2 separate regions of the Homo sapiens genome follow, and region 1 is linked to region 2. Evidence: fine-mapped expression QTL. A gene starts in region 2. The other region holds a variant in brackets. All regions are shown on one strand. Distances are between the middles of the regions.

Region 1 (2,907 bases), 400 kb before region 2:
ACATCTATGATTAGGATCTGCCTTTTGCCATCACCATTTTCCTCCTCTCCTAAGATTTTGTCTCTGAGAAACATCCCAGAGAGCCTGTAAAAAAAAAAATCAAACAACATAATTTAGCATATTAGAAAATATGCAAATGCTAGCATGAAATAGAAGTGGTTATCTGCAAATGGCCTGTTCACCTGGGTTACCGATAAACTAAAGAAGTAGAAATGAACATTGTCAAACCCAGGGCTGGGCTAACACCATCTAAAAAATCAAATGTCACTTACATCTTGTTTCCAGTGGAAAGAACCTTTCCAGTGGTTAGCATAGAGGGGACATACTGGAAGTCCTCAAGGGCAAAAACGTCAGAGCAAAAGGTCAATTTCATTTCTGTGTAGTCCCAGTTGAATTGTGGACTTTTCTAATGGCCATCAATTTAATTCTCAGTTCTAAGCTTCTCTCGAGTCTTGGATGGGAGGAAGAAGGTAAGATGGCCTGCACAAATCTCAGGGTTGCAAAAACTGGAAACACTGGCATGAATTAGAAATTTCTTAATGACAGGGCCAGCAGCTGATGGTTCTACTTGTCTTTCTCTAATTAAATTTAGTTCACTGAAATTAGAACGACCTCCGGAGATAGATTAGACCTTGAAGATACTGCTCACATTTATAGATGGTCCGCTCTCTGCTAGTTACTGTTCTAAGCCTTTTATTTATATTATCTCATTTAATTCTTACAACAACCTAAGGACTATGTTACCATCATTATTCCCATATTTCAGATGAAGAAACTGAGGCACAGAACTTAAGTAACTTGCCAAGAGCACACACCAATTAAGTGGCAGAGTTAGGATTTGAAGCCAGGCTTTAGGTTCTAGAATTTAGACTCATAACCACTATATGTATTTCATAACATTTCATGATAAACCAATCCAAACCTCTAACTTTACAAATGAGCAAAGCAGCTGCAGTGGCATAATGGGATCTGGGACATCAGGGTCATGTTCCCCTCTTTCCACCACCAAGCCCTTTCATTATGAGACATACCCTTATAATAATGAAAGCCAGACAGTGTTTAAAAATTCAGAGGCTTAAAGTTTCCTCTTTTGTAAAAGACAGCACAAGCACATCCGATGTATTATTAGCCTTATTTAATATCCAAACTGTTCCCCTAAACCCATATTTATCACAGCCACAGCAACTAAAATGTTGCACCCATATTCAAGAAGTTAAGAGGGAAAGATAAACCACTTTACCCTTTCAGACTTCAAAACAGCCTGTGCCCGAATCTTTTACAGAAATTAGCTCAATTATGCTGTTCTGTTAATCATGACACAATCCTTTCCTGCTTGAGTTTGCTCATTTCAAGCTGCCACATCATTAATCTAAAAATAAGGTTCTCATAAATCCATATTGACACAGACAGTTTTTAGCTGTCACACATCTCAGACACTGATCATTCCAGTTTTCTTCCTAAATCACAAGATGGATGTGAAAGAATCACAAAACTTTATCACAATTATTTTCTGAAAAAGTAGTGTAAGTATAGATATTTATATTGCTTACCCATAAATTATAATCAGCC[G/A]CGTCTTTGCTGTCCTCTCTAATCTAACTGAACTAAGCTTGCAGTAGGAAGTTGAGTCTGTTTTAAAAAAATTATTTTTTTGGTAAAAAATGCATCCTGAAATGGCAGATCATATTGAATGTCTGAGAAATGGCCCAGCTGGCATAGCTGTGACTCCCACGATACCTTTTGTTGCCAGAGACCTCCGCTACTGTGAATCTTGGGACCAAAAATATGCAATCTTTTCATCGGATCATTGAGAAGTTCCTGTCCTTTCAGAACAGAGGCAGGCTGTGTCCCTGAGTAAGTGCACAAATGAGTGAGTGCGTGTGTTTGTATGCGTGTGTGCCTGTGTGTGTGTGTGTGTGTGTGTGTGTGTGTGTGTGTGTGAGAGAGAGAGAGAGAGAGAGAGGGTGAGAGAGAGAGAGAGTTGGGGAGGAGGAAAGAGGGGAGGGAAGGGACAAAAAGAATGAGAGTATTTTGAAGAAATATACTCGAGTTAGAAAAGGATTCCTCTAAAAAAAATCCTCTTTTCCACAGGGATCTACAAACGGTAATTGGATTGTAACTGTGCAAACTGTCCTTATTAGGAATCAACCAAAGAATGTTGGAAGCCACTGGTGAAACCCCTGAGAGCAAGATAAAGCACATAGGATGCCTTCTTTGTTTAGGACAAATTCTCAGTTCTTAAATTATATTTTAAAACTACTGACTCCATTTTTCTAACACTAGCCACACACACTAAAAAGCAAAAGTTTTCATTCTCTTTCACACTGAAGCATAACACATGCTCTGTATTTTATCCTCTTTGTGGGACAGCAGTCCTTGAGAAGTTGTTCATTTCCTGAACAGAGGGTGTGGAGGTCAGAGTGAATATACCCACATGGCCATATCTAAGAGGGTTCAGGTTGGGGTGGGGGTTGGGGGTGGCATCCATGAAGAGCAGAGAGAAAAGGGAAGATTAATTCCAATCGCGAATTACCTTGATCTCCATGCATTCCACATGGCACTGAACCAAATACAACTCGAAAAGACATCTTTGTTTCCCAGTCAATAGGAAGTTATAGTTCTCTCATGGGTCTCAAGTGAATTCCAACAAAAGAATCACTGTGATTATAATTTACAAACCGGGAAATGATTTCATGGAAGATCTTACTGATTCAAAATTAAGGACTCGGTATGCTTTTACTAGGATTCTGTGAAACTAATCATGTAAGCCACACATAGCCTCTGCTGCTGCTGCTGCTAAGGAAGGAATTTTAAAGCAGTAAAATATTCCAGGTGGTTTTCTTTACTAGAATGATTAAACTTAAACAGAGATTCAGAGTAAAATCTACCTGTTACTGCACATACCTCCAC
Region 2 (2,907 bases):
TCGGCTACTGGCTGGCCCGGCCAGGACAGAAGGCAGGTCCCAGGCCATGCTCTTCTTGAGGCCGCCGCGACCCAGGGGAACCTCATAGTCAAAGTGAAAGCTGCCGGATGGTGACTTCTCCTGCGGGGTGCTGGGTGTGGAGAAGGACGAGCAAAGAGGTCCAGGAGGCGGTAGCCTGGTGGCCCTGGGGGGCGGACCCCGGGAAGAGGACGCCAAGCGAGGGCCGAGACTCTCGGCTGGGAGTGATGGGGAGTAGAGGCGGCCCGCCGTGGCTCCCCGCGCACTGCCCTCCGCGCCCGCCTCGTCGCTCCCGCAGCCGCCGATCAGGGCCGGGTCCAGGCTGCGGGTCTGGCGCAGCTTCCTCTTGGAGAAGCCCTTGGCCGAGGCCGCGCTACTTGAAGCGGGCGAGGAACAGGAGAAGACGCTGTGGAGCAGGCTCTGCGCGGACATCTCGGCGGGGCTGCACCTGAGGACCACCTCCTCCTCCCTCCCTGGACGCTGGTGGCTTTGGGTCGGGAACCGAAAGGGACTCAGGCAAAGGTGCCAGGCGGGGCTGGCCCGGGGTTTGCCCAGGGCAGTGGAGAGCAAAGCCCAGCTCACGCGCCGCCGGTGCGCTCCAAGTGCCCCGGCGGCGGCAGGAGCAGCAGATCCATCACCAGCCTTCTAGGAAAATGGGTCTGGGGACCTCCTGCAGCCGCTAGAACCTTCCTCCGGAGCCCAAGACGCGAAGAGGGTCAGGAAGAGGAGGAGGAAGGTCAGGCGCTCGCTGGGTTCCCAGCTCCAGCCTGCCAGCGCCACTCCCCCTTCCTAGCTGAGGCGGGAGACGCAGCGCTCCTGCTCGCTGGCTCTGGATGGCCTCTAAGACTCCAGCAAGCTCCTCCTTGCGGCCCGAGGACAGTCCCGAGGGCCAGGGAGAAGGCTGCCTGGGCGTGCGCCCAGGGCGCGTCCACCGCGCTCCCGGCGCCGCGAGAACTTCCTCCCGCTCCTGAGCCGGGCGCCTGAGCTGCGCCTCCCTGCACTCTCTCCTTGCCCCGGCGCCCGAGGTTGCGCGCCTGGCCTCCGCTGGGCTGCTGCGCCCACTCTTCCGACTGCAGAGGCTCAAGGGTTGTTCCAAGCTCAAGGTTCCCGCGGGGTCTCTGTCTTGCTGCAGTGTGGGGACACCGAGCGTGCTGCGCCCGGGACCTCCAAAGACTGCGTGCCCACGGTGGGATGGAATTCCCGGCGGCGCTCAGCGCTCTCCGTGGAGGAGGGAGCTCAGGAGACAGCCCCAAGGCCGGGTGTGTGTGTTCCGCCGGAGAGGAACACGCTATTCGCAGCCCAGCCTTGGGCCCAGGGCAGACGCGGAGATGACCCCGTACGCTCGCTCTAGAGGCAGCGGGAAGGGGGCGGCCAGGACGTGTAGAGCTGGAGGAATGCCGGGGCTGGAGCTGGGGCGGAGCCAGGAGCAGGAGAAAGCAGAACGTGAAGAGTTTTCCAGGCGCCAAACCTGCAAGCGGCGAGGAGAGAAGGCAGCTCGCCACTGATACCGGGTCTCCTGGGGAGAAAGTCGTGAGGACGGAAGTGCGGACCTTCTCCCCCGTCTCCCCACCCCCAGATCAAGGGTCGCGCCAGCTCCACTCACGTTTCTGGAAAGGAAGGGAAGTGTCAGATTGCACCCCACCCACTGGTGTCAGATGGGCAGCCGGGGACGATTGCTCTGAAGTTGGAGTTAAATCTCCTGCCTTTTCTCCCCGCGCCCCCCCACCCCGCCCTGTCCCGGCTGTTTTTGTTTTTAAAAAGGAAGGATAGATAGGAAACTGTCTAAAAGCAGTGGCTGCCGATGAATGAGCTGGAGATGGAGACCTACTAAGAAAGTGGAGGGGGAGGAGCCTTTGCCGTGGAAGGGGTCCTGAGCACGTGCGGAAACGTGCTCTAGGAGGAGGGGTGAGTGAGGCCGGGTAGGGGGCAGGCGCCGGGCGCAGCTTCAGCCCAGAGGCTGCAGAGATTGGCGCTCACAAAGCGATCTGTCTCCGCGTCCCGCTCTGGGACGCCTCGGGTCTCAGCGCGGTGGCCACAGTCCTGGGAAGCTGGAGAACGCTGGGGAAATCAATCTTCCCGGCAAGGAGATGAGTCTGAAAGCAGCTTCTCCCGCTGTCGGACCCCTGGAATCTATAAAGCGCAAAGCCTCGCCCTCTTGGAGGGCTTTTTGATGTAACAGTTAAGCTTTGCAATGCAACTTACAACCATCTCAGCAGGGAGCAGACAGAATGTTGGAAATGTCTACTTTGTGTTTGTGTCCTCTTTTATCACTTAGGGATGAAGATAATTTTATATAAATGTAAAGGTGACTCTACCATTTCTTTTATTTTGGAGAAAAAATACAATGAAATTATAAATACAGATGTTGGACACGAACATTCCTCTTGCATATCTACCAGAATTGTCCAAGTTTGATTCTGGAAGACTTCCTTTATTCCCTATGACATATTCAGGGGAAAAGTTAATTTACTTAGACTCTTTGAAAAGCGTGTTTGGTGTTCCTAGGTGTTCAGCTATTTTGGAGGAGGTACGTCATGAAATCTAATTAGGAGAATTCGTTGTCTCCACAAAGGGCGTCGGGCTCCCAGGTCTTGGCTGTACTCGTTTTTTGTAAACGCAGCCGAACAGACTGCACCCTTAGAGATTTTTTTTCCGGTAGCTTTAATGAGCTATCTGCTGTCTGAAGACAGAGTTCGATTCTAGTTTCCCATCCCCCATCGCTGTCCATCTCTTCTCACCCTGAGCTTCTTAAGTATTTTCAGCGGCTGTCAATCAGGTGTGCTGCTGACAGGCACAGTGTTTAAAAAGAGCTCTTGCTCCCCTGCCTAACTACACCCAGGCCAAGTTACATTTGGGGGCTTGTTGGCATTGGCTTTCTTCCCTCCTCAT

Which allele goes with the higher level. Positions count from the first base shown, and alleles are read on the strand shown. Sizes are in standard deviations (SD) of each study's normalised expression.
With allele A in place of G in region 1, the expression in spleen of the gene that starts at base 1,542 in region 2 is lower (small effect, 0.24 SD a copy in GTEx).

Evidence for each region.
Region 1: its variant is fine-mapped to the expression of ARHGAP6 in spleen (GTEx, PIP 0.98).

The regions. Positions count from the first base shown.
Region 1 is chrX:11,264,136-11,267,042 of GRCh38, forward strand. All of the region lies in intron 1 of ARHGAP6 (Rho GTPase activating protein 6), which reads right to left. Among named protein-coding and RNA genes, the nearest start is that of AMELX, 28 kb to the right of the region's middle. The variant G/A (reference allele first, on the strand shown) is at 1,570.
Region 2 is chrX:11,664,379-11,667,285 of GRCh38, forward strand. ARHGAP6 (Rho GTPase activating protein 6) reads right to left here and starts at 1,542. Exons shown (of 13, transcript NM_013427.3): 1 at 1-1,542. The coding sequence starts at 450.